Homo sapiens: one gene and its partners. The protein of the gene in region 4 purifies or fractionates together with the protein of the main gene of each other region. This does not show direct contact. Each region holds a gene or a part of one and is shown on either strand. Other genes may lie near its edges. The genes, in order: SEC23IP, FLCN, TBC1D9B and CTAG2.

Region 1 (7,026 bases), on a different chromosome or scaffold from region 4:
TTCCCCATTTGGCTTTGTAATTTAGAAGAGTAAGGTGTAGAGAACAATTTAACTTTTTTCTTACATAATCGTTTCTGTCTGTGCCATATATTGAATAATGTACCCTTTTGTCATTGGTTTGATATTTTTATCATATGCCAAATATTTTGCTGTTGTTTGACATTTTAATTAATATTTGTTTCCTAGGCTTTCTCATCTCTTCTGGTGATTTATTTGTCTATGATACTTCATTGATTTCAAGCCATTTATTTTCCACATTTTAACATATTTAAATTTGTAATGCATCTTAAAATCTGCTGTTGGGGCTGGTGCAGTGGCTCATACCTGTAATCCCAGCGCTGTGGGAGGATTACTTGAGCCCAGGAGTTTGAGACCAGCCTGGGCAACATAGTGAAACCTCGTCTCTTAAAAAAAAAAAAAAAAAAAATTTAAGTCAGCTGTTGCCTTAACGGAAGTTGAGTTCTTTCTGAGAAGCTGTGCATTCTCTTCTGCTGGTCACTGGGGGAGGGGCTTTACCAACTTGCCTCTGCTTAAGCTAATTTCTCTGCTTGGGATTTTTTAGGATGATGCTGGTAGTGTGATTTCAGCCCCCAAAATTTGCAGGGATGGGGTTGTCAGTTCAGATATTGGAGTTTTTGTTCCCTCTTTCCATTGTCAAGGAAGAGGTGCGCAGGCCTCTTTGCCATCCCTTCTGCATGTAGTTGCTTGCTTTTATCCCTCATTGAGACTATAGATGTTTAGTCCCCCACTTTTTGTGAGGGGTTCTCCTTTGAGACTCCCTTTCTGGGCATCTTTTTATGGTACATAACAGTGAAGTGTCACAATCAACAGTGTCTTAGATTTGGTGAAATATGGTGTTTTAATAATTGTAATTTTTTACATAATATCTGGCAGTAGAAGTTCTCAGTATACCATAGTCTTTGCAGTTATCCCGAATGAAGTTCGAAATAATTTAAGTTCCCCTGACGCTCTCTCCCCTAACAAAACAAAGCAAGACAAACAAAACCAAAAGAATAGTAATTCTAGGATTTTGCCATCACCTTATATGGAAAACTCAGAACCTTCTATTTCACATATGATTCGTTCACTATAATTGTTTTATTTACTTCTTCTTACACTTGGCTGTAAAATTTAGGCAAGAATTTAAGTTTCTAATACTATACTAATGTCATAAGATAATCCATTTAAAATGTTAACAATTATTCTATACATAGTTCATTCAAGCTTAGATCAGTTTTGCTGAATGGTTGTTTTATGTTCATGTCCTTTTAGACCTTTTTAGGATTGTTCTTTGAAAAGCCTCAAATTGGCCAGGTGTGGTGGCTTACACCTGTAATCTTAGCACTTTGGAGGCTGAGGCAGGCAGATCGCTTGAGCTCAGGAGTTCGAGACCAGCTTAGCAACATAGACAAGACATTACTTGTCTCTACTAAAAGTAAAAAAAAAAAAATCACTGGGGCATGATGGTGTGCACCTGTAGTCCCAGCAACTTGGGAGGCTGAGGTGGGAGGATTGCTGGAGTTCGGGAGATTGAGGCTGCAGTGAGCTGTGATCGTACCACTGCACTCCAGCCTGGATTATAGAGTGAGACCCTGTCTCAAAAATAAATAATTAAATAAAAAATAAAAAAGCCTCAAATTAACATGGCAGATAACTAACTTTATTTTTTATTAATATTTTAGCTGGTCACGGTGGCTCATGCCTGTAATCCCAGCACTTTGGGAGGCCAAGGCGGATCACAAGGTCAGGAGTTCGAGACCAGCCTGGCCAAATAGTGAAATCTTGTCTCTACTAAAAATACAAAAATTAGCCGGGCGTGGTAGCACACACCTGTAGTCCCAGCTACTTGGGAGGCTGAGGCAGGAGAATCTTTTGAACCTGGGAGACTGAGGGTGCAGTGAGCTGAGATCGTGCCATTGCACTCCTGCCTGGGCGACAGGGCGAGACTCTGTCTCAAAGAAAAAAAATAAAATAAAATATTTTAATTTTTTGAGAAGGGGTCTCACTCTGTCACCCAGCTTGTGTGAGTGCAGTGGCGCAATCTTGGCTCACTGCAACCTCTGACTCCCAGGCTCAAGCGATCCTCCTAACTTAGCATCTCGAGAGGCTGGGACCACAGGTGTGCACCACCACGTCTGGCTAATTTTTTTATTTTTTGGTAGAGACAGGGTTCCCCCAAGTTGCCCAGGCTGGTCTCGAACTTCTGAGCTGAGATGATCCACTTGCCTCGGCCTCCCACAGTGCTGGGATTACAGGCGTGAGCCACAACACTTGGCCATAACTAACTTTAAATTGTGTCTTTTACTCTCTGTACTGGCTTTGCTATGAAGAAATCATGCTGGTTAATCTTACTGAGTGTTTCCTGGGCATTCTTGTCCCTTTGGAAGGCCTGAGGACTTGCTTACAGGCTGTGCTCTTTGGAGGCGGTTTGCAGTGTTTGTCAGTAAAGTTGAGCACTGGATTGTCCATTTTTTTTTTTTTTTTTTGAGATGGAGTCTCACCCTGTCCCCAAGGCTGGAGTGCAGTGGCGTCATCTTGGCTCACTGCAAGCTCCGCCTCCCGTGTTCACACCATTCTCCTGCCTCAGCCTCCAGAGTAGCTGGGATTACAGGCACCCGCCACCATGCCCAGCTAATTTTTTGTATTTTCAGTAGAGATGGGGTTTCACCATGTTAGTCAGGATGGTCTCGATTTCCTGACCTTGTGATCTGCCCACCTCGGCCTCCCAAAGTGCTGAGATTACAGGCGTGAGACACCGTGCCTGGCCGATTGTCTGTTCTTTTACTTCAGAAAAGACAACGATGCATGGTATTTGACTGTAAATTTGTAAAGTTCACTGAGGTTTTTTTTTTTTTTCCTTTTTAAGACTTTCTTGTCTGCACAGAAAGTCCCAGTACAACTTCCATTGCTGAGAAAATCCTCAGAGGACTTTCCCACTTCGCTCCTGTGATGGATGACAGAAGAGTGATTCATTAACAATTGCTCAGCCACAATTCTCGGATATAGGGATTCAAAAGACAGGACACAGAACTAACACAGTGAAAAAAATCAGTACCACATTTGGACAGTATAGGTGAGAAAACATAATTATAAAAATGATGCCATGAAAAATTCCACAGATCAGTTTAGTTGTATAGTTGTCAAAGTTATATGTGATATCAATGAAGAAATATTTGTAGCATGTAAACGGTTATTTCTGTTTCTTAAAAAGTATTGTTAGTGGGCTATTAAACTTGGATTTTTCTTTTTATTAATGCAGTATGTTCTTTTTATTCAAGTATGAACTTGTTGAGAAACTATAGTAATATGATTTTTAAGAGATTTATGTTCTACTTAAAATGTGAATTGTACTTCTGAGCTGCCTTAATGCAAGGTCATTTATATTTGTTAAGAGGAAATAATCAAGATCACTCATATCCCAACTGAATCTGAGGTTTTATAAATCCCTCAAACGATTGCTGAGAGCCTGATTGTGGAAAGAAGTGAGATGCACCTTATTTTCAAGAAGTCCTGGGAAGCGCTCTCCTAGCACGTCCATTTCCAGGAGGAGAAGCAAGCAGATGAGAGGTTTTCCATTTTGTCATCCAAGGTAGCTGTGCACTTGCCTTGTTGCTGAAGTTCCAATAATGTGAAAACCAAAGTAGAGGTTTTTTTCTTCTTCTTTTTGTTTTCTATTAATTTCACTTATACCAAAGTGTTTGAAAGTATGAAATGTGTTGCTTCTGAGTTATATAAGGCTACTTCATGACAAGACTGCTTTGTAATATTTCACTTTGTTTTACTACAAATTCAGATCACTTTGTTTTACTATAAATTCAGATTATCCAAATATTTTCCTAATACTATGTGGGAATGCTGATTTTCTTTTGTTACGTAGTGGAAACATTTTGCATTGTTTACATAGTTCTCATGGAACATGGAAATTTTTGAAAGTGATATATGATACACATTTTTTGTGTATGTATTCTAATTAGTGTGAATAAAGCAGTAACATTAATGCATTTTTTAAGCAGCAAACTTATGTATTTCTCTTGTCTTCCTTAAAAGTGTCCCCATGAACTCAGTGTTTATTCCCTTTTCATTTTGAGTACCTGCTTATATGGTCAGTATGTAACGTTAGCATTGGCTCCTAATGGTAGAATTAGAACAGCAAGATTGTAGAGCTGTAATTGACTCCAGACAACATAGATTTCAGCCACCTCATTCTACAGCTGAGGCCAGGACAATAAATGCCTTTCCCAGACTGGGTAGTGGCAGATCTGGGATGGAATATGGTTTTCTTGATTCCCTTTCAGCCTTCATTTCTCTCTCTCAGGACTACTACTTTTTAATTACTTTTCACTTAATTTCCCAATACTGATGAAATAAAGAAAAATGAGGGTTATTTATATACATTTCAATAAAATCCAATTTGATTTTTCAACTTACATCTGATTTTTGTTTGTGTCATTCAGCCTGTCTTCTGAGTAATGGGCAGAGAAGGACCAGGGTTCGTAGAAGAAGCATGTGGCAGCTGAGTGGCAGCAGTCTTGCCCTTTCATTTTAATACTTGAGTACACAGAAAATAGAATTTTTGAGTGACTCTGCCTGTGGATATATATACTCATACATACATATATATATATACACACACACATATGTATGTATGTATGTATTACTATTCAGTCTCTTAAAAACCAAAAAACAGTAGATCCCCTGAGGGTAGAGTCTTTATGTATGAACATATTGTTCACTGTTGTAACCACCTTGCAGGATTTCAGTCTATAAACTAGGTGAGAATCCAGCTGCTGAGTGAAGCTTGATCTCTGCCTCTTCCTCAGGAGCAGCTCATCCCCTGACAACCTCCCCTCCCAGCCCCTAATCTGGTTTAATGCCCTCCTTTTCCCCAGATAAAGAAAGTCATGTCTGTAGTTATTCCAAAAGTGTTTCATGTGTAGAGTTTGGCACAAAAAGTAAAAAGCGCCAGCATCTGAAGTCAAAGGTGAAAGAGTCATCACAGTACTGATGAAGACACCCAGGCCTCGTCAGCTATGTTAACGTGCTGTATGACAAGAGGAACCTGCTTTCTAAGTCTGCTGGACACGCGTGCTTCTTGAATCCAACCAGACAAGCATGTTTTCTCAAAACCACAGTATAAGACAAGGAAACTGCACAGATTCGAGTGATTTTTGAGGTAAGTATGTTATTGGAAAGGTGTGATCTATATAGAACCCTGTACATGAAAAGGAGGAGATGCCGCTATCTTGGCAGGGATGATCATGTATTTGAAATAGTAACTCACAGCATTTGGTCTCATGATAAGAGTACTGAAGATTATCCCAGAAAACCTAGGATGATTGGTATTTATAGTACCATTGTTTCAGGTTTTTATGACTTGAGGCATCTAACTATCTTAATGCTGTACTTTAGTGTTTACCAAGCAGCTTTCTGGTGGAAACTTGAACTGCAGACACTGAGTGTTTTGGTTTTCCTCCAAGTTATAGTTCTCATTGTAACTTAATAAGTTGGCATTCCAGCTTAGTTTGAGTCAGTTTCCCAGGGCTGGGTCCTCAGAGGAGAGTGGATAGAATTCAGTTCCTCTATGAGCTGGGGTGCTGACATTGTGTTCCTGCTGTTGACTGTCCCTGCGGTGCACGGGACAGACTGTCAGCTAACCTGTCTTCATGACATTTCTATAATACTCCTCAGGGGGTTAACCCCATCTCTACTAAAAATAAAAAAAATTAGCTGGGCATGGTGGCATGTGCCTGTAGTCCCAGCTACAGGAGGCTGAGGCAGGAGAATTGCTTGAACCCAGGAGGTGGAGGTTGCAGTGAGTTGGGATCTCGCCACTGCACTCTAGCCTGAGTGACAGAGCGAGACTCTGTCTCAAAAAAAAATAAATGAATAAAAAATAAAACAGCAACTCTTGCAGATTTCCCGAATGTATTGGTCCCAGAGAACACTGAAAATAATGTCATGTTGTTAACACCAGTGGGAGTTTGGGAAATAATTCCAGCTCTTTAATACTTCTTTCAGCTTCAGATTAAGTGAAATGAGTTTCACATATTTCAATATATGAAATTTTATGATGACACATAAAACAGGCCAGGGGTTATTGAGGACACATCTGTGAGATAGTGGGCAATGCTACATATTCGTTAGTGGATGTGCTGCAGTTCAGGTTCATGGACAGGTGGGACTGGTGTGGTTGGGATAACCCACCATGTTTGTCTTTCATTTCTTGTATAAAGAGTGGTTTTTAAAAGACCTTACTATGGAATTTTCACAAATACTCAAAAGTATGGAGAATGGTACAGTGAATCCCCATGTGCCCTTTTCCCAGCTTCAGGGGTGGTGTCAGTGATAATGATTTGGCTCTGTGTCCCCACCCAAATCTCATCTTGAATTGTAATCCCCACGTGTCAGGGGAGGGACCTGGTGGGAGGTGATTGGATCATGGGGGCTGTTTCCCCATGCTGTTCTTGTGATAGTGAGGGAGTTCTCACAAGATCTGATGGTTTTAAAAGTGGCAGTTTTCCCTGCACTCTCTCCTGCCACCTTGTGAAGAAGGTGCCTGCTTCCCCTTTGCCTTTCGTCACAATTGTAAGTTCCCCGAGGTTCGTCATGATTGTAAGTTTCCTGAGGTCTCCCCAACCATGCAGAACTGTGAGTCACTTGAACCCCTTTTGTTTATAAATTGCCCAGTCTCAGGTAGTACCTTGATAGCAGTGTGAAAATGGACTAATACAGTCAGGGACCTAAAAGACAGGTAAAGAGATGTGGCCAGGTGAAGACGGAAAAAGGACAGTGCATTCCAGACCTGTGGAAAGACGCGAGGTTGGAAAGAACATCACAACTGGGGCGACTGAAGAAATTATGTTGTTAAGCACGAAATGCAGAGAGAGAGCTATGTGAATGTGTTGAGTGTGATTTTCATTAAACAATTTTTAAAGAAAGCATTTCTAGTGGTGCTTTTATTTTTGCAGCCGCTTAATAGCATTCACTCTTGTTGAAAGGAGCACAGTTTGGAATATTGGAAAGTGC
Region 2 (7,026 bases), on a different chromosome or scaffold from region 4:
AAGAGCTGGCAATGTACTGAATATTCACAACTGCAGCAAAAGGTACCCTCAAACATAAGGCCCAGAAACTCTTGCTGAATTTCAAAGTAGAAACGCTTGAATGTTAACCTCGGGAGCAGACATGTTATTGCGACTGCATACTGAGTCGGACCTGTTTCTCCTGCGGGTTTTGAGTCTAAGTCCACAAGGGGCCTGGGAGGCAAGCTGTCCTCCTAGTCGTCTCTCCAAGGAGTTTGAACACAGAGAGAGCCCATCATCCCTCCGCCTTTCATTGCCATCTTCAGCGATTCCAACGGCTGGAGGGAGAGTCTGGGAAGCACACAGGCCCCAAACCTGACAGGGCCGAGCCCAGCCCTGATGGTTTCCCTTCCTTGCTGGGACACAGCTCCTTCCAGCAGTTGAGAAACTCAAGGGACAGTCCCTCTCACGGGGCTGGAGGATCCTGTGGACAGCCATCCCTGTCTTTAGGCAGGTGTGTGTGACGGGTCAGTTCCGAGACTCCGAGGCTGTGGGGCTGCGGACCGTGGACATGAGGTGTGACTTGTAGGTCTTGCTCAGGCCAGTCATCCAGAACTTCAGCAGCTTGACATTGTCCTCCTCGGACGCACCCAGGATGCTCAGCAGCTTCTGTGTGTCCTCTTTGGGTCGACTGTCCACCTTGGTGAACTTAAAAAGCACCTTCACTTTGCTGAAGAAAACCAAAACAAAACACTCAGACACCACAGCACAATCCCTCGAGCCCTGGTCACGGGGCCAACCAGGGGTGACACGGCTTTGGCACCAGCAGGAGCTGTGCAGGCAGAGCTGGAATCCACACCCTTGGGGCAGCAGGCTTGGCCCCTGAACTGCTGAAAGGAGCTGTGTCCCAGCAAGGAAGGGAAGCTGTCGGGGCTGGGCTCGGCCCTCTGTCGGGTATGGGTATGGGGCCTGTGCGCTTCCCACACCCTCCCTCAAGCTGTTGTCAAGACGCCAAGAAGAAAGAAAAACCTTCCTTAAACTCGTGGAAGACACTGGTTGCTCCTAAGCTTCACTGCATGATTTTAAATCAGGACAATGTTTGATTAATAAATTTGACCCAAAAAATTACCAAGAATCGAGGCAGGAGGAAATAAAGTAAATTTGCTTACAAAAAAAAAAACCCGGGGGGCCAGGTGCAGTGGCTCACGCCTGTAATCCCAGCACTTTGGGAGGCCAAGGTGGGCGGATCACGAAGTCAGGAGTTCAAGACCAGCCTGGCCAACATGCTAAAACCCTGTCTCTACTAAAAATACAAATATTAGCCAGGCATGGTGGTGGGTGCCTGTAATCCCAGCTACTCCAGAGGCTGAGGCAGAAGAATCGCTTGAACCCGGGAGGCGGAGGTTGTGGTGAGCCAAGATCATGCCATTGCACTCCAGCCTGGGCAACAAGAGCCAAACTCTGACTCAAAAAAAATAAAAAATAAAAATAAAATAAAATAAAAAGCGGGGTGGGGCATGGGTTACTGGGCTTTTAGGTTTTGAAGTTAATTGCACAGCAGATGACAGAGCTTCCATTATGAACCCTCCTGTGAGCTTGGAGCCCTTGCCCAAGCCTCAGTCGCTCTCCAAGGCAGGCGCCACCCCCACCTCCCCATGCAGGAGCCGGAGGCAGACATGATGACCGCCTCCCGAGGCCACCTGAGCTTTGCAGTGGCGGACGTGGAGTTGGAACCCCGCCCCCAACCTCTTCTCTCGGCTCCTCCCTCAGTGGCCACGGCCCAGCTCCTCTTTTGGAAACAGCTCCAGGTTTTCTCCAGGGTCGCAAGCAAAGGGGCCTCACCCACACTGTTGCTTACTTCATCCACTCCTCCTTGAGGCAGACGAGGCACTGGTCCACCACATCCACAGACAGGTTCTGGTTGGTCAGAGCCGCTTCAATCTTATTCAGGATGGTGGGGCCCACTGGGGAGAAGGGCAGGGGCAGAGCAAGGGCAGGCGTTAGCGCGGGGCGGGGGCATCTTCTCACAAAAAGGACACTCTGCCTGGGGGCACCCACCTCGGTCTGCAGCTACAGGGCTCCCACTGGTCACCACAAACTCGTACTTGCTGAGAGACTGGTCATCCTCACACCCCACAGGGTGGAGGGTGGAACGTGCGGCTGCGTGGACCTCCACGATGACAGCAAACTCTGTAACAACACAAGGCCCGTGGCTCCTCATCTCCCCCATGCTCCTCACCTCCCCTGCGCTAGCCCACCGTGGGCCCCACTCCGCTCATCCCAGGTCAGTGGGGAAGGCTGCTGGTGAAAAGACTGGCCCAAATCAATGCTTTGGTATTTAAAACCTTTCAGGTTATTCGTGAATAGTTAAGGGTTAACTTTTGCCTCAGTTAAACTAATAATTTATTATATTACAATAATCACAAAGTACTTTATATACATCAATTTACCTCTGGCTAAGCAGCCCTATGAGGGTGGTCTCACCATGACCCTATTCTACAGATGGGGAAACAGGCCTGGAGACGTTAAATAACCTGCTCGTAGTGGTAAGAATTTGAAGTCTGTTTGAAACCAGAGCCTGTGTTTCCAATGCTACCCGGAAAAAAGGCACTGCCTCGCAGGGAGTCAGGACCCAGCCTGGGTGCTGATTGGGGGCTCAGGGTAGCTCCACTCGGACCATGAGTCAGCAGCTGCTGGTCACCGCTGTGCTGGGGGAAGTCACTGATGAGCCTGGGGGGCTGATCCCTGGACATCCCCAAACCAAAAGACCAGGGGTTTGCTGAGCCCTGACCACACCAGTGAAGGCCGGGAAGACCTCGGGCACATGAGGTGAAGAAAAAGGCTGGAGGAGAGCAGAAGTCAGGACAGGGGAACAGTAGAAGAGTGAGGAGAGGATGGCAGGGCCCACAGAAGCAGGCAGCTCACACCCAGCATTCAGCAGGCCTCCATCTCATAGGCACCCAATCACCAGGACGACCAGGATCCTCCGGCCAGGGACACATCCTCCCACCCCACGATGGTGACCTGCAGCCCACTGACGACAGTCCCTGCCAGCCAACCTTCCCATCAGGTCCACTCACCCACCGCTACCTGTGTGAAGATAGAACACGGAGGCCCAGAGCCATGGGGGAAGCTGGCCCTGCAATGAGGCCTCCTCTCCACAACCCATGACAGAGATCTGGTTCCACTTTGGGCCTGAGGCGTGGGGAACCTCAGCGCAGGGCATGGCCCCACAGCCCGCGGGGGCACGCACCTGAGGAGAGCACGTGGGGGGGGATCTGCACGTGCGGGCTGAGCCCCAGGAAGTTGCACCGATAGGCCTCCTCGTACTGGCTGCTGTATGGGATGATGCGGACGCAGCCCACGGGAAGCATGGTCTGAGGAGGACAGCAGGACTCAGACCAAGGACACGAGGAAGCCCTCAGCCCCGGCCATCCATGCTCTACTACCCAAACCCCACACGCCTCCTGCAGCCCGGTCCAAGCCCTCCCTCCTGCCAGAGGAGTCCCCAGACTCTCAGCCCACAGTGGGGGTGAGGGGGGAGGGTCCTCCACCACCAGGTCCCTAACTCTTGTCTGGACCGCCAGTCACACACCAGCTTGTACCGCCCCTCGCTCTGTGGTGTTAACTCATATTAATGTTTGCCTGCACAGATGTTTGTCTCCTACCGCATCCCACAAAGAAGCTTTTACCAAGACTGTGTCATATGCATTTTTGTTCCCTCTCAGGCCTGGGCAGTCAGCAGGCACACGCATCCTTCTGATGATTTAAACATCATCAGACCAGACCCGGGTCTCCGTGCCCACTGCGCCCCCAGTGGAGACCGTGTGGTGCACAGCGGTTCTGTGCTGGGCAGTCGGTGCACCTTGGCATCCCCACCTGACGCCAGGCACCAGGCCAATACTGCCCTGCGCCGCACACCTAAGGAAAAGATGTTCTCACCCGAAGTACTTCAAAAGCTGACTGGACGAGGTCCACGTCTCTGCTTTTCCAGATCACCTGGTTCCCCATGAGAACGTGCCAGGCCAGCATGCGGAAAGAAGGGGCACCCAGGACCTAAACAAGAGAGTGCAGTGCTTTCAGCGTGACTAGTAGAAATGGTTTTTCTCTCCCTTCCCATGAAGTTATTTGTGTGTTCATAAAACTTTGTAGAGCAAAGACAGGGCTCAGGAGAAAGACACTTATCTTCTCAGGGAGGCGGGTGCCCGGCCCAGGGTTAAAGGGGCAGAGAGAGAAGTTCCAGGTTTGCACATAAATGCTAGATTCCAAAGCTCTTGCTCCAAGATCTTTCTCCCAGTTTTGTTTTTAAAAATTTGAAGCAAAAAGATGTTAACTTTGTGCAATATTCACCTTCTCTCTACAGACACTTTCTGCTGAACCATTTGAAAGCAAGCTGTAGGGCCCTCGACATGGCAGCACCCAGGAGAATAAGGGCATCTCCACAGCTGAGACCATGACTGCAGCCAGGAGTGCCTGGACGGACGCATCTGACATCCAGCCGTGTGCACAAGCCCAGGGCTGCTGCCTGCTTGACGGCTGCTGTTCTTTGGATCCAGGAGATACTACAGGACCCATCATGGCTTTTAGTTGTCACGTCCTTATTCTTTAACCTAGAACAGCCTCTCCCCACACCCCACCTGTTATTAACTTCCATGACATTGACACCTTAGGAGAGTCCAGCCTGCTGTCTCACGGCTTCTAAGAAGCCAAACCCAGCTTTGAAACACAACATAAGAGAGAGGCCACAATACTATGTCTCACCAAACCCCAACAGCCTCAAAGTAGTCCCACCTCCAGAGGAATTCCAGACCCCTTCCAACCTTCATCAACATAAGCAACGGACAAGGAAGGTTTCAGCCAAATGCAGGATTTTGATGGAATGGGTGTTTACATCCAGAAGCCCCAAGGACATCTGCCATGAAATCAGTCTCACTCCATTTTCAAAAACAAATAACTCTCTTCTAATGAATCAGTGCTCATTGGAAAAATTCATGCAGAAGAATTTTATAAGAAGGCAGCCTGCCCTTGTAATCCAGCAACCCACACCCCTCTCTCCCGGCATCTGACTCGATGTAACTGGAGACAACACTGTTAGATTTTGTCGTGTCTGGCAGGCACACATGTACATACATCACCCTGAACACACAGTGCCTGCTTTATTTCTTCTAATTAATCATATTCCATGGTTTGGCTACTGTTTACTAGTATGGTTTGATATGCAAGTTGTTCCTAATTTTTTGTAAGAATGACCATCACTTTCTTTTTTTTTTTTTTTTTGAGATGGAGTCTCGCTCTGTCACCAGTCTGGAGTGCAGTGGTGCCATCTTGGCTCACTGTTAACCTCCACCTCCCAGGTTCAAGCGATTCTCCTGCCTCAGCCTCCAAGTAGCTGGGACTACAGGCACATGCCACCATGCCCAGCTAATTTTTGTATTAATAGAGATGGGGTTTCACCATGTTGGCCAGGCTGGTCTCGAACTCCTGACCTCGTGATCCGCTCCCCCTTGGCCTCCCAAAGTGCTGGGATTACAGGTGAGAGCCACCACGCCCAGCCAGACCATCACTTACAATGGGCAGGGTCCAGGCTGCATCCAAACCAATTACAGTGCTGTTCAATGCCTTTAGGAGCTTCTTAGAGGATTAGAGGACCATGGGATGCCAACTATCTGGGCTTTTCTTTGAAGATACTTAGGTCATCACTGAAAGGGGAGCACTGATCCTATGGCTAATACCCCCAACGCCCTGTGCCCTCAGCCACCCACCGAGGAGGCTGTCAGTCACTTCCTGCAGGGTTTTGAAGGTGGAGGGTCCAGAGGCAAGGCGTGTGGGCAGGGACAGCCCATGACTGGCTCTCCTCCTGAGCTCCTGATGCGCTGTGCCCCTGCCGCCTACCTGCCTCATGTGCCGGAGGGACTTGAAGACTGGCAGCTTCCGGGGCTGCCAGCTCCCACAGCCTGAGAGAGAGGAGGACTCTGCCGGGCCCTGGGTCAGCTCCCGCCCTTCTGTACTCTCTGGCAACACAGGGGCTTTCTCCTCCTCTTCAGCCTCAGAGTTGTCCCAGCTTTCTGATTCCTCTTCTAAATCTGCAAGACAGATGACAAGGACAGTTACAGATACAAACAGTCTCATCCTGTGACTTCAGCCCAAGATACTTCATGGGCTGAGCCGGTCAGTGTAGATTCCTGGCTGCGGCCAGGTCCTATGCTCCCTGCTCCCTGTTGCTCTGGGAGCCCTGGGGTGGGAGGGAGGGCTCAGTTGCTGTCTACTTAGCCCGGGGTACCACACATCTCTCTTAGAAGCACTTATGGAAAGACCGTCAGCTGTTCTCTGCTGGTGAGAAAACTCAAATCAGTAAGAAAAATGCCAACAGCGTGTCTACGGAACACACCCAGTCGGCCACAGTTCTCGAGGATCTACACGTTGTTTCTTTTTTTTCCACTTTTTTTTTTTTTTTTTTTTTTGAGACGGAGTCTCACTCTGTCGCACAGGCTGGAGTGCAGTGGCGCAATCTCGGCTCACTGCAACCTCCGCCTCCTGGGTTCAAGCGATTCTTCTGCCCCAGCCTCCCAAGTAGCTGGGACTACAGGCACCTGCCACCATGTCCGGCTAACTTTTTTTGGTATTTTTAGTAGAGACGGGGTTTCACCGTTATCTGCCAGGCTGGTCTCAAACTCCTGACCTCATGATCCCCCGACCTCGGCCTCCCGGTCCACTTTTGTTTTAGCTTGAGGGCGTACGTGTGCGGCTTTGTTACAAGGGTATGCTGCGTGGTGCTAAAGTTTGGGCTTCTATGAATCCTGTCACCCAGACAGTGAACCACAGGAAGTAATATGCCCAGATAGTATCCAATAGAAAGCATTTCAGCCCTTCCTCCCCTTCCTCCCTCCCTCCCTCCTTCTGGAGCCCCCAGTGTCTACTATTCCCATCTTTTTTATTTGAGACAGTGTCTCGCTCTGTTGCCCAGGCTGGAATGCAGTGGCACGATCACGGCTTACTGCAGCCTCAATCTTCTGGGCTCAAGTGATCCTCCCAACGAAGCCTTCCAAGTAGTGGGACTACAGGCATGCG
Region 3 (7,026 bases), on a different chromosome or scaffold from region 4:
GAGCCGACGCCGCCCCACAGGGGAGAGCCGACCTCTGATGGCCTGCTGGAGCCGAGCCACGCCAAGGTGGTATGTCCAGAGAGGACTGGTGAGGTGGCCTCTGAGAGTGACATATGGGACCGGTGCAGGAACACGGTCCTCTAAGCGCAGCCACGGAGCAGCACTTTGCCCTGCAGGGCCCAGAAGGCAGGCCTGATGGAAACTCACGCGTGGGAGACCCTGTCTCCACTAGGCAAGTGACCTGAGAGGGCAAGCAGTGTGCCCCCACCATGTTACCTGCCTCCCCAACAGGGCAGGTGCCTGTGGAGGGGCTCACTTGTCCTACACCCTCCACCTGTCCCATCACTGAGTGACATGTGACTGCCTGGGCTAGGGCATCCTCCCAGGTACCCCCCAGTGAGACAGGGCAGAGCAGGACAGGCTGGTCCCTGAGCCCACTGACACCTCGGGGCTGGAAAGGCCTTGGCCTCTCAACTAGGGGATGCTGACCTCCCTCAGGGGTATGATGAGGTGGCAAGCGTCCTCCTCCTTGCTGGCGAAGCAGATGTAGTTGTTGGAGATGAACATCTGGCCAGGGATGTGCAGCTTGTTGAACGGCGTCCACAGGGTGCAGCTTGTGTGGCCGTCTAGCCGCTCATCCCTGGGCAGCCGGAACGTGGCTCGGTAGCACTCATTCTTGGCTCGGGCGTCCAGGTCTCTGGGGAAACAAGGTAGGAGGACAGGAGGAAAGGGGACAAGGTCAGGACCAGCACACTCTCAAGGAAGCCTTGGGGCCTCCCCAGGCCTGTTTCCACATCAGATTCAGGATCCCTGGGGTGGTCCCTTGAGCAAGTCATGCTCAGGGACCTCAGAGTTCAATAAAAGATGCATGCTGAGTGAGCAGGCAGAAGGTGAGACAGTCACATAACCAGCGGAGAAGTGGCCAGCAAGCAATGTGTCCTGAGACTGCTTTGAAAAGGACACACCTAGATGCTGGCCTGGGCAATGTGCAACCCATCCCTCGGTACTGATGGGCAAGCAGAGCCCAGAGCACCTGCCCTGGATCCCACTCAGATGGAGGGCCCCGGGCAGCTCTTCCACCCTGGGCAGGCCTAACCCCAGGTTTCACCTTGAAACCTAGGTGAGGAGCTCCCCACAGGGAGGTGTGGAGCTTAAACTAAAGCATGCGGCTGCTAACAGAAATGCACACCTGTGTATCTGATGGCTGTGACAGTGGCCTGGCCCAGGCCCTCACCCCTTTGGTGGCTCTGTCCACATAAACTCTCCCAGCCCCAAAGGGAGCCTCCTGCCTGCCCTGGGCCGCAGTGGCCTGACCAGGGCCTGACTGCATTCTCACCGGCAGTGCCAGGAGCAGTCATGTTCCATCTCTGCTCGTGTTCTTTCCAAAAGGTCCAACAAGCCAACCTGTCACTTGCATCCCAAGGACAACATGCTTGCACAATTTTCTGGTCCTGGAGGTGGACCCCAGAGTTTGGGCCTGGACCACAGTCTGTGGGTGCAATGCAGGAAATGGCCTGGCTGGAATGAGGTCGCTCAACACAAGGGTGTGAATCTGGCTGTGGTCAGGCTGGCTGTGGGACCCAGGGAACCTCAGAGATCTTGTCCAGCCTCTGGAGTTTCCCATAAGCTACAACCTAGGAACCCAAACGTTAAGTAGCCCGGGAGGGCTGGCTGCTATGATGTGTTCCTGCCTATCGGTCCCCTGGACAGGGCAGCAGGGAACTCAGACCCACACATGGCCCATCTCCTTGGCTGGCTTCAGACCCAGAGGTCTGCTTCCACGTCAAACTCAGGACCCCTGGGGGTCCCATGGCTGTGAGAGGCCTCTGGCCAAGGAGTCTCAGGGTATACAGGAGAGCTGTCAATCACGGTGGGACGGAGGCCGTGCACTTGAGCCCAGATTTACCAAAGCCTTTCTGGGGGTGTCAGAACACCCTGGCTGAGGTGGCTACATCCTGGCTCCACTGCTCACTAACCGAGGGACTTCAGGCAAGTTACTTAACCTCTCTGTGCCTCAGCTTCCTTGTCTGATACCTAGGGATGGTAAGAGCCCCTTCCCATCATAGGGCCAAGAGGAATAAAGTGTGAAGAGCTTCCTCCCCATTAGTGGTATCCTCAGGACATCACTGCTATCTCCTGCTGCCTCTCCACACGGGACTGCAATGATCTGTTTACCTGGCTTCCTTCCCAAGTGGGGAGCCCATGAGGGGTGAATGTGGACACCTTCTCCAGGTCTACACACTTGGACCAGGCAGGTCCCAGCCAAGGTCAGCGAACCTGGCTCACATGAGCCCACCCCAGCCCTGGAGGGCAACGCACCGCTTCAGGGCTGAGATGTTCCTGTGTGGCCGGATGGGCCTAGGCAGGGCCTTGTCCTCCAGGAAGCCCTCGCTGTCCAGCAGCTGCCGCATGGCCAGGTTGGCCAACTGCTCCATGAGCTTGAAGGTCTCGCCGATGTTGAGGAACATGGAGAAGAAGAGCTCCTGGTCGCGGGTGTCCACACGGATGCTCTCGGGGAAGAGCAGGGTGGCGTTCTTCTCCAGACGCGTTATGTCCACCCACTGCACCACGAGGCTCACTGTGCCCACAGAGATAGACACACCGCAAGTTAGGGCCTGGCAGGGCGAGGCTCCTGATGCCCATCTGTACCCCAGACCCATCCCAGGGAACTGCTCTCTGGGGGCAGCACTTCCTGTGTGCCCAGGCCTGTCTGGGCTGTGTCACGCCCTCCATGTGGAGGGACCAGGCCACTGAGGTGTCCACTGCCTTCCAGACCAACCACACACGGTGAGTGTCTCCCCCACCAGTGGCTGAAGGGGAAAGGAACGAACGTGCGGAGGTGAACCACCGAGACCCACCCAGCAGCTCCCCCAAGTGGGAGCGCACGGAGGTGTGAACAGTCACAGCACAGCGCGGCCAACACAGAACAGGACACAGCCCCTGCTGACGGGAGGTGACTGGCCACCTGGTCGTGACAGGTAAGCGGCAAGGGCAGGAGGGGGCACAGGGAGGCTGTGGGCTGAGGGAGGCAAGGAGGGAGGAGGGCTTGGTGGGCTTGGGGATGGCTAAGACCCTGGGGCTCTTTCTGGAGCTGCTGGGAAATCAGGCTCGCATCCTGTGGCCGGGATGTCTGTAGGGAGGAACCTGCAGCAGATGAGGGCTGTGGCACGCACCCAAGGCATTGCATGACATGGAATCACCAGGAATTTGGGACAGACGTGTGCCTGAATACGCCAGTTCAGCAGAAGAGGGCAGGGCAGGCACGCGGAGTCACCATGTAGAGAACCCTACTAGCGAGTGGGGGGCATGGTAAAAGTCGGCTGGGAGCAGGTGTACGCCTGGCCAAGGCCGGACAGTCCCATCTTGGGCCGCTAAGGTGGCATTTGGGTTTCAGGGAGACCCCTCTGGTGGCCATGTGGGGATGGAGTATCTGGGGGCCGAAGGCAGGGAGGGGCTGAGGGTGTGGGGGCTGGGGCACACTGAGGGGCGGGCTCACCTTCCTTCCCCAGCAGGAAGGAGTAGAAGCACAGGTGGTTGACCGTCAGGTACAGCCAGCCCTGCCGGGGCACGCGGCCCTTCCAGTAGCTGCAGGAGTAGTAATTCACCAGCTTCTCGCCCTCAGGCATCCCAAACTGCTTCCGCATCTTCAGCTCAGCCTCCTTGAACTTCCCGGGGTCCTCGTCTCCCTGGGGCTGCAGGTTCTTGTTCTCTTCTGCGATGATTCCCTGGAGGAAGGCAAGAGGACAAGGGCTTGCCCTGCACAGTCCCGGACAGGTCAAAGGGTGGAGCAGAGAGGCCCAGGGAACCCAGGACTCATGGACCTTGGTCTAAGGGCTACAGGCACAGCTGGGAACAGTCAGTGGCTCTTGCTGGCTTGCAGTCAAGGCACATGGATGAGAGACGCTGCCTGTGTGACTCTCTAGACAAAGTTCCTGCAACTCCCGTAACTACTGTCATCACCAGTTGTGAGCAGAGGCTTTTTAAAAAAATTAAGACAGGGTCTCACTCTGTCACCCAAGCTGGAGTGCAGTGGCTCAACCACGGCTCACTGTAGCCTCAACCCAACAGCTGAAGCCATCCTCCTGCCTCAGCCTCCCAAGTAGTTGGGACTATAGGTGTACTCCACCACACCTGGCTAATTTTGTACTTTTTGTAGAAATGGGGTTTTGCCATGTTGCCCAGGCTGGTCTCAAACTCCTGGGCTCAAGTGATCCGCCCGCCTCAGCCTCCCAAAGTGCTGGGATTACAGGTGTGAACCACTGTGTCTGGCCTGACACTTTTAAAATGAATATTTCAGTTATTTTCATGTAAAATTGTTGAAACATTATCCATAAACATGGTAAAAAATGCATACAGTAGAAATGTGTATTCAGTGAAAAGGGAATCTTTTCTCGCTCTCTGTAGTGACTTTCCTGGTTCCTTCCAGACATGCAAACACCAATGGATTCATAAGCAAATGTATGTTTTCCTCTTTCCCCCTTTATTTGCCCAAATGGGATCACCCTGCAGCTCTGTTCTGTAAAGCGCTTCTCTTATCACATCCTGGAGGACGTCCTGCACTTGGCCCCCTGTATGCCAGGGGGCTCCTGCCTCTTGGCCCTGCACACAAACCAGCGGCAGGACCTGCAGTTTCAGGGCCCGTCCATACTCCCTCATGCTGCTGGCATTGTTACAGGGCTCAGGGTGCCCAGAGACATCCCCCTGGGCCACAGAGCCAGCCCCAAGCCTCCTGGGGTAAAACAGGTCCTCAGCAGTGCCCTCAGCTCAAAATGTACACATTGATTTTCTAGAAAGACAATTACAAGATAAACTAGTCAGTCAAGGTCAGTGCTGGTGGCTGGGCCACCCCCGATCCCTCTGTCCATGGGCAGTGAGGACAGCCATGAGCCTAGGTGAGGACTGAAAGGTGGGATCTGTTCTGATTTCTTCTATTTCTGAGTAGCCAGGGAAGGAAACTACAATATGCCATCCCAAAATATGCCCTTTTGACATAAGAAGTATTTTGAGCTGAAGGCAATTAAGTAGCAGCAAACACAGGAAAAGCTCTTTCTGCCCTCCCTCCCCCTTTCTGCCTAAAAGCTGGATATACGTTCTCCTTTATTGGAGACAATTCTAGATTCCTATCAGCCCAGAGATGACACCGCACGCATCTGCAAACAAACCTTACTCCATCGGTTTCATCCCACGTATTTATCTTCTCACAGTTTCCTGCCCTTGGAAGCATAAGCTGTTTTCGTCTGTCCTGTTATTGTTCTTTAAGTGGCCTGTCCCTGTGTTAAGAGGCTGTGTAAACCCAATTCCAACTAAACTTTTGAGTCACCTATCCAAGTTTCTCCCATGAATATATGAGATACACACATTAGTAAACTTCTGTTTTTGTCTTGTTAATCTGCCTTTTGTAACAGAGCCCCAGCCAAGAACCTAAATGGGGAGAAGGAAAAGGGTTTTTCTTCTCTTATACCAGTGCTACCGCAGCTGCGATCTAAACATCTCTCTCCAAAGTGCTGGGATTACAGGTGTGAGCCACCGCGCCTAGCCAAACTGGTGTTCTTTTAAGCCACTAAGTTGATGGTAATTTGTTGCAGAAGCAACTGGAAATTAATAAATGTTATTCTAATAAAGTGCCCATTTTGTCTAAATTCTTTTTTTTTTAGACAGGGTCTCACTCTATTGCCCAGGCTGGAATGCTGTGGCGCAATCTTGGCTCACTGCAACCTCTGCCTCCCGGGTTCAAGCAATTCTTGTGCCTCAGCCTCCCAAATAGGTGGGATTACAGGTGCGCGACACCATGCCCAGCTAATTTTTTATATTTTTAGTAGAGACAAGGTTTTGCCATGTTGGCCAGGCTGGTCTTAAACTCCTGGCCTCAAGTGATCCACCTGCCTTAGCCTCCCAAAGTGCTAGGATTACGGGTGTGAGACACCACGCCCAGCCCCATTTTGTCTAAATTCTTAAAGGTACTGGTTTAAGGCTGTTTTGTCATCCTCTCTCTTTAGAGTTTTGCTTTTTTAAAGATGCTCCTCACAGCGTATTTTGAGACGGAGTCTCGCTCTGTTGCCCAGGCTGGAGGGCAGTGGCATGATCTCGGCTCACTGCAACCTCCGCCTCCCAGGTTCATGCCATTCTCCTGCCTCAGCCTCCCGAGTAGCTGGGACTACAGGCCCCCGCCACCATGCCCGGCTAATTTTTTTGTATTTTTAGTAGAGATGGGGTTTCACTGTGTTAGCCAGGATGGTCTCGATCTCCTGACCTCGTGATCCGCCCGCCTCGGCCTCCAAAAGTGCTGGGATTACAGGCATAAGCCACTGCGCCTGGCCCATCCTTCCTTCTTTTGTAAGACTGAAGGCTTTAAATTTCCTTCTGTGTATTGCTCTCACTGCATCCCACACATCCTGACATGCAGTAGTATTTCAATCATTTTCTTTTCTTTTTTTTTTTTTTGAGATGGAGTCTCGCTCTGTTGCCCAGGCTGGAGTGCAGTGGTGTGATCTCAGCTCACTGCAACCTCTGCCTCCTAAGTCCAAGTGATTCTCCTGCCTCAGTCTTCCATTCCGAGTAGCTGGGACTACAGGCCCATGCCACCACGCCCAGCTACTTTTTAAATATTTTTAGTAGAGACAGGGTTTTGCCATGTTGGCAAAGGATGGCTGGCCTTGATCTCCTGACCTCAAGTGATCCGCCCGTCTTGGCCTCCCAGAGTGCTGGGATTACAGGTGTGAGCCACCACACCTGGCCTCAATTCTAAATATTTTCTAATTTCCATTTCTTCCTTGGCCTATGAGTCATTTGGTTTGTTCTGCTGATGCGTTTGTTGGGCCTGGCATATAGGAGGCAGTGAATAATGTCACAACTACTATTATTATCATCGCCCAATTGCTCACCAGAGTAAAGGCTTGCTTCTGCTCTCTCCACCTGTTTTCCTGGAGATAGAGGTAACCAGGTCTCACCTTGAACCCCAAAGTGCACTGAGAAGAGCTGAGAAAGCTGGTAATGTCTGTCCAGGCTTAGGAAGTTCTGGTATCAGGA
Region 4 (6,470 bases):
TCTCACTACATTGCCCAGGGTGGCCTCCAACTGCAGGTCTCAAGCCATCCTCCCACCTGAGCCTCCCAGAACAATGGGAATACAGGTGTGGGCCACCATGCCCGGCCCATATCACATGTTTAACAGTGAAATAATGCTGGTTTTATGCATCTATTCAAGTACATGTTTTTGAAGCATTTTTAGAAAGCACAAAAGCTCATATGTTCAATGAAAACAATTTGGGAAAAAATTTAATGCTGACCTGGAAAAACATTATATATGCTACTGTCATATATTTAACATATAAATGCAAGTATATTGAGGAAAATATTCTAAAATGTCCACAGTAGTTAATGCTGAATGGCGGGACCCAGTGGCTTTTCATTTTCCCCCATTTCCCAAATTGCCTCCCGTTACCTTGTGCTACTTCAATCTGTGAATCCCAGAGCCTCCCCTACAACCCGAGGACAAGGGCATGCAAGTCCGAAGGTGCCTTCGCTCGCCGAAAAGAGACTCAGACACGGAATCGTAGCTCAGCTTTATTTTCTACAGAAACAAACATGTAAGCCGTCCTCCTCCAGCGACAAACAATCAGGCCCCCACAATGAACTGGCCACTCGTGCTGGGACCATTCCCTAGGGGAGGAGGCATGACCTAGGAAGGGGCGCCAGGCTGGGCTTAGCGCCTCTGCCCTGAGGGAGCCTGAGCCAAAAACACGGGCAGAAAGCACTGCGTGATCCACATCAACAGGGAAAGCTGCTGGAGACAGGAGCTGATGGAGAGCTGCAGTTGGCGGTGGTCTGCAGCAGTCAGTCGGCTAAATGTGAGGGGCAGAGAACATCACATTAAAGGCGACACCTCTGCACCCATCTCCCTGGGCTCCCTCGGGTGGCGGCGGGCCTGGTGTACCAGGTCTCTGTTCTGAGACCTTGTGTTTGGGTGTTCTGAGATCTCTAGCTTTCTGCCCCTCCGGGGAGGCGGATCCCAGCCCCCAACCCACCACCCTCATCCGCCCAGCGCCTTCCCTGTCCTGGTCCCGAACTGACATAAACAGTAGGTTGCCGGACACGGTGAAGTCCTTCAGAACCGCCCCTGGTCGGGGGAGCGGTGCGGCATCCCGGGACAGGATCCTGCGGACCAGCTCCGCTTCCATGGGCGACGAGAAAGGCATCGTGATGTGCCTGGTGGGGACCCAGTTAAGGTGCCATCTCCTAGGATTTGGCCGGTGCCCATCTCATCCCCTCAGGCTGTCTCCCCACGCACTGGCCCAGGTCCTGCAGCAACCCCACCCAGCTGTCTTGATTCCCCACTTTCCTCTGTTGCACCTCAAGCTGACTCCTGCGTGCCCTTCCAAGGCCCTCCCCACCATGCCCCCTGCCGCATCAGCCGGGACCTCTCCCCATCGCTTGACACCACCCCCATCCAGCCCACACCCCAGCCACCGGCTCCCACCTTGCACGCTTCCCCCCAACTCCTGATCCCTTCACACACCCAAGAACCCCTGTCTCCTGTCCCCCTGCCCCTCACCCCATCGCCCAGCACCCAACTGTGCACACGCTCCACCTCCCATCCCCTACCTACTCCCTTCCTCTGAGCCACCCCTCGACCTCCAACTCCCAGCCCCCACCCCCACCCCACCCGGCGCCTTACCCCCATCTCCCAAACCCCACCTTCCGCACCTGGCCCTGCCCTCACCCACCTCCTGGCCCTGCCCCCCACCTCTTGACCCTGTTGTCTCCGTCTCACGGCCCCCACCTCGCCACCAGAACCTCCTAGAACAGAACAGAACAGGATACAACTCAAGCAGGCGGCTGTCCGGCCTCCTGGCCCCGCAGGGGCACCTTCCATCCTGCGCAGAAGCGGCACCGCCATGCGGACCCCGCGGGGCGCCTCCTCTCGGCCCCGAGGCCCTTGCTGCCCCTGCGCCCCGGGGACCTCTGCCGCCCGTGGCACCCGCCTCTCCTGGGCCGCCAGCATTGCCCCCTGGGCCATCAGGAATGCCAGGGCCTCCTGGGCCATCAGCATCGCCCGTCGAACCCCCTGTGCCCCGGCCTTCGGCCTGCATGGCTCCGGAGCCTCTGCCCGGCTCTCAGAGAGAAGGTCAGGGCCCACGAGGATGCGGAGGCAGAGAGGCTGCAGGAAGTTCCGCCCCCTGGCGTGAGATGGGCAGCCCGGGATCCTCAGGGCGCCTGCGCACAGGGGCCCTACTTCCGGCCCTGGGAGACCCCGAGTGAGCCCCGGAGCACGTGACCGGTTCTCACCAACCCCGCCCCTCCCCAAGAGAGCCCGGGCCGGAAGGTGGCCGCAATGCCAGCTTGGACCCCTCACCCCTGAGCAGCCGGCTGTCCGCCGGACCCCTGTCCCGGGAGCCCTGCAGGGAGTCAGGCACTGCGGGGCCCAGCCTGTCCCATCCCCCGGGTCTCCCTCACATCGAGGAGCAAGACGGGCCTGGGAACACGGGGCCGGGACTGTGCGGCCATCGTCCCGGACCCTGTCTGCCCTGTCCGTCCTTGGGGGAGCGCCCAGGACAGACCCCGGGGGGCAGGCCTCTAACTGGGCTCAGCAGCCTCCGTCCCTGTCCTGGTCGCCCAGCTGGTGGGGTAGCTGGAACTGCATGTCTGGTGGGCGTGGCCTCGCGCCAGCCAAGGTCTCCCAGGCGCCAGGTCCAGCCAAGGTGGACGGGAGGGCCCAGCGGGACCCGGGGCCGGATCTCACTCCTGGGTTCAACGGGTTCTGTCCCTGTCCTAGTCGCCCCGCCTGGTGGGGGAGCTGGAGCTGCGTGTGGGGTGGGTTGCGGGTGGCCTCCCACCAGCCAGGGGCTCCCGGGCTCTAGGCCTGGCCCAGGTGGACAGGCGGGACCTGCTGGACCTGAGGCTGGGTCGGGCCTGGCTCCTGGGTTCGGCAGTATCAGTCCCTGCCCTGGTCGCTCTTGCCTGGTAGGGAGCTGGGAGGTGACCCTGTGTCTGCTGGGTGCTGGCTTACTTCTGTGTCTGGAAGGGGGTCAGATCCACAGGAAAGGTGCTGCGAGAGGCGGGCAGGGGTGGGGGTGGCATGGCCCTAGGAGCTGGGTGTCTGTCCCCACGCCCTGTTCACAAGTCTGTGGGGCGAGAGGCTGCAATACTCCATCCCGGGTGTCTGGGCTGCTCACCAGGCCGGCTCAGGCTTCCCACATCCTGTACCCTGGGTTGGGCATGAAACCGATCCAATCGTCCCATAGGCTGTTCTTTTTGATACACATAGAAACTGACCCTTCTGGTCTTCAAGCTTGAACCTTACAGTTGTTTTATCTGAATTCCTTCCTCAGGAAATGACCTTCGGGCCTCTCAAAATATCAAAGAACTGAAACTCACCAGATAACCACATCCAGACAATGAGATGCTGGACCCCCCAAATTCATCAGGATTGCTTTCTGGGCCCTCCCGAGTTCCTGTTTTCCTACACATTGGTGCATTTCTTCCTGGCTATATAAACCCCTAGTTTTAGTCAGGGGGATGGATTTGAGACTTAACTCCCATCTCCCCGGCTGCAGCACCCAATTAAAGCCGTCTTCCCTGGTAATGCTCTTCGTCTCAGTCAGTCATTGGCTTTCTGTGCGGCCAGCAGCAGGACGTAGACCAAACCCTTGGTATTTCGGTAACAGGCACACCCCCAGGAAGGGACCCCGGACACGGCTACCACCTCTAGGCTTAAAGCGAATGCACTTCCCGCATCTCCAGTCTTCCGTGTAGCAGCTTTAACCTATGTATGTCTGTGCCACATCCAGTCCTCAGACGGCTGAGTGACCCCAAGAAAGGCTTCCCCGACACCCAGACAGAGGCTGCAGGGCTGGGGCTGGGTGAGGGTGGCGGGCCTGCGGGGACATTCTACTGTGCTAAAAAGCCACTGCAGACATAGCAATAAAAACATGTCATTTTCCAAAGCAGGCTCCTGCTTCTGCCTCTGCTGCTCTAAGAAGGGGTCAGGGTGCAGGAGGCAGGGGGAACCTCCTCCAGCTGGAGCTGCTGCGGTGAGCAAGGCTCTGCTCTGGAGGCCTCTGAGGCTGGCACCCTTCTGGGGACTGGGAAGGGGGCAGGGAAGGCAGCAGCCCAGGGAAAGCCTCGTCCCCCTGGAGCCGAGGCAGTTGGGGAGAGCAGGACGAGAGTGAGCTGGAGAGCAGCCACACCGATGGGTAAGGGTGGGTGAAGGGATTCCACAGGTGTCTAGAAAACTGGAAAGAGCTCCTTAGCAGGTCCAGGCCCCAGGTGTAGGGGAGGACCAGATGTGGAGGATGAAGACGGTTGTCCAGAGGGATCTCCAGGCGTTGGCATTATTGGGTCCTACTGAGATGCTGTCAAGGAGAAAACACAGGCTGTGTGTGGCAGGGCGACAAATGAGTGCTGCTGCCAAGCTCTGTCCTGTTTTCTGTGCACGTCTCAGAGCCCCTCCAGTGACCGTCATCTCCGGCCTCCTCCTGCGCCTCTGTGTTCGTAGACATCTTCTCACATCTCAGATCCTGCTGAGCCTCTGGGCCCCCTGCACGTGCCTTCTGCCTCTCGGCTGCTGGGGTGGGGACCTCTGTGCCCTGTGCCAGCGCCTCTCCTGCAGCTCACAACACATCTGCTTTTTCTCCTGCGCCCTGCACAGGGTGGGCCTGGAAGCTCTGGGGAAGTTGTACCCTTGGACACAGCCCCCCACCGATGGGGCCAAGAGTCACTGGATAAAAGTCTTAGTCTCTCACCCTTTGAAGGACAACTCTGAGGTGCGGCTGACTGTGGAGCGAATGAAATGAAACGGATGCACGGGGATGGGTGTGGACAAAGGAATGCCGACTTCTCAGGCTGCCGATACATATCTCAGTAGAAGCACGGGGGAATGCTATATAGAGAAATATTTCTATAGTATCTGAAGTGTTTAGAATGTATTGACCTAATATATACACAATAAAAGTAAAAACATTGGAAGAAAATTTAGATGAACTTTATTTGATTGTTGGAATGGAAAAGACTTTTCTCTCTTTCTTTCTTTCTTTCTCTCCTTTTCTTTCTTTCTTTCTTTTCTTTCCTTTTTTTCATTATTATACCTTAAGTGCTGGGGTACATGTGCACAACGTGCAGGTTTGTTACATAGGTATACATGTGCCATGCTGGTTTGCTGCACCCATCAACTTGTTGACCTAGCAATCCCATTACTGGGTATATACCCAAAGGATTGTAAATCATTCTACTATAAAGACACATGCACATGTATGTTTATTGCAGCACTCTTCACAATAGCAAAGACTTGGAACCAACCCAAATGCCCATCAATGTTAGACTGGATTTTAAAACTGTGGCACATATACACCATGAAATATATGCAGCCATGAAAGAGAATGAGTTCATGTCGTTTGCAGAGACATGGATGAAGCTGGAAACCATCATTTTCAGCAAATTAACACAGGAACAGAAAACCAAACACCGCATGTTCTCACTCGTAAGTGGGAGTTGAACAATGTGGACACAGGGAGGGGAACATCACACACCGGGGCCTGTTGGGGGTGGGGGGCTGGGGGAGGGATAGCATTGGAAAAGACTTTTCTAAGCCTACTAGCAATGAGAATAATAATAACCAATAACATTTGTTGGGTGGTCACCATGTCCCAAGCCACTGTTGTAAGCACTAGACAAGAATTGGCTCATTTATCCAGAAATACACCACATTTTCATTGTCGTTATCCTTGGCGGTGAGATAACGGTTGGTTTTTTATTTTCTCTTCCGAACTTGCCCATATTTCCTCTTCTTTTGCAGTGAACATGTATTACATTTATAAGCAGAAAGCGATTAAGAAAGTTATTCATTACTTGCTGTTGAGGAAAATTTCTAATTAGCTCTGGAGTGAGCCAGTTTGCCAAAGTTTAAATTAGCCTGTTCAATTCATTGGAGGCCATATTTTTCCTCTGAAACTTGTTCTAATTGGCACCTTTTCTTGATGTAATGAGGCGGACGGTGCCGTGATGAAGTCTCTGAAGTCACCGAGCCTCGGGGCCCACGCTAGACACCACGGGGCAGATGTCGCCCGGCTCTCCTGGTCATCTCTGTGGCTTTCAGCCGCTTCCAAAAAACAATTGTTTCCAAATTCCACACACACAGTTCATCCTACCTTGAAAGTTATTCCTCCAGAGGGCTGTTGATAGTTTGCTTCATCAGCATTTTGTCACTATTACACACTGAGATTTTTTTTTTCTTCTGCACCTTGGAGGTACTCATGAAGAACACATGTGTGCTTAAACACAAAACCTACCGAGGCCCATAACAGCCCCTCCCCTCCAGAGGGCCGGTCCTGGTCCACACACGCTGGCAGACAGTCTTTGTGTTTCCGAATCAGAGAAGACTTGCTTGGAATGGATGAAATGTATTTGAAATCACATTAGGCATCATCTGGAATGGTGAAGCTTCAGAGGTGACAGGGCCAGGATGTCTATATTCAAAGAGGGCCATTGAATTAAAGTTAAGCAGGGATCTCTTTGCTTGAA

The links.
Region 1: the proteins of CTAG2 (region 4) and SEC23IP purify together in Homo sapiens (co-immunoprecipitation; 2 studies listed by BioGRID and IntAct, with this or other methods). This does not show direct contact.
Region 2: the proteins of CTAG2 (region 4) and FLCN purify together in Homo sapiens (co-immunoprecipitation; 2 studies listed by BioGRID and IntAct, with this or other methods). This does not show direct contact.
Region 3: the proteins of CTAG2 (region 4) and TBC1D9B purify together in Homo sapiens (co-immunoprecipitation; 2 studies listed by BioGRID and IntAct, with this or other methods). This does not show direct contact.

Annotation. Positions count from the first base shown.
Region 1 is NC_000010.11:119,937,720-119,944,745, forward strand, and holds the end of SEC23IP (SEC23-interacting protein), read left to right. Parts: intron 1-2,866; 3' UTR 2,867-6,938; downstream 6,939-7,026. UniProt on the Homo sapiens protein: Plays a role in the organization of endoplasmic reticulum exit sites. Specifically binds to phosphatidylinositol 3-phosphate (PI(3)P), phosphatidylinositol 4-phosphate (PI(4)P) and phosphatidylinositol 5-phosphate (PI(5)P).
Region 2 is NC_000017.11:17,213,169-17,220,194, forward strand, and holds part of FLCN (folliculin), read right to left. Parts: exon of another isoform or gene 6,399-7,026; intron 6,042-6,398; coding exon 5,851-6,041; intron 4,015-5,850; coding exon 3,901-4,014; intron 3,336-3,900; coding exon 3,212-3,335; intron 2,149-3,211; coding exon 2,017-2,148; intron 1,923-2,016; coding exon 1,817-1,922; intron 689-1,816; coding exon 487-688; 3' UTR 1-486. UniProt on the Homo sapiens protein: Multi-functional protein, involved in both the cellular response to amino acid availability and in the regulation of glycolysis.
Region 3 is NC_000005.10:179,890,890-179,897,915, forward strand, and holds part of TBC1D9B (TBC1 domain family member 9B), read right to left. Parts: intron 3,726-7,026; coding exon 3,497-3,725; intron 2,579-3,496; coding exon 2,320-2,578; intron 698-2,319; coding exon 490-697; intron 1-489. UniProt on the Homo sapiens protein: May act as a GTPase-activating protein for Rab family protein(s).
Region 4 is NC_000023.11:154,651,472-154,657,941, forward strand, and holds CTAG2 (cancer/testis antigen 2), read right to left. Parts: upstream 2,109-6,470; 5' UTR 2,045-2,108; coding exon 1,776-2,044; intron 1,161-1,775; coding exon 1,026-1,160; coding exon of another isoform or gene 797-1,025; coding exon 658-796; 3' UTR 506-657; downstream 1-505.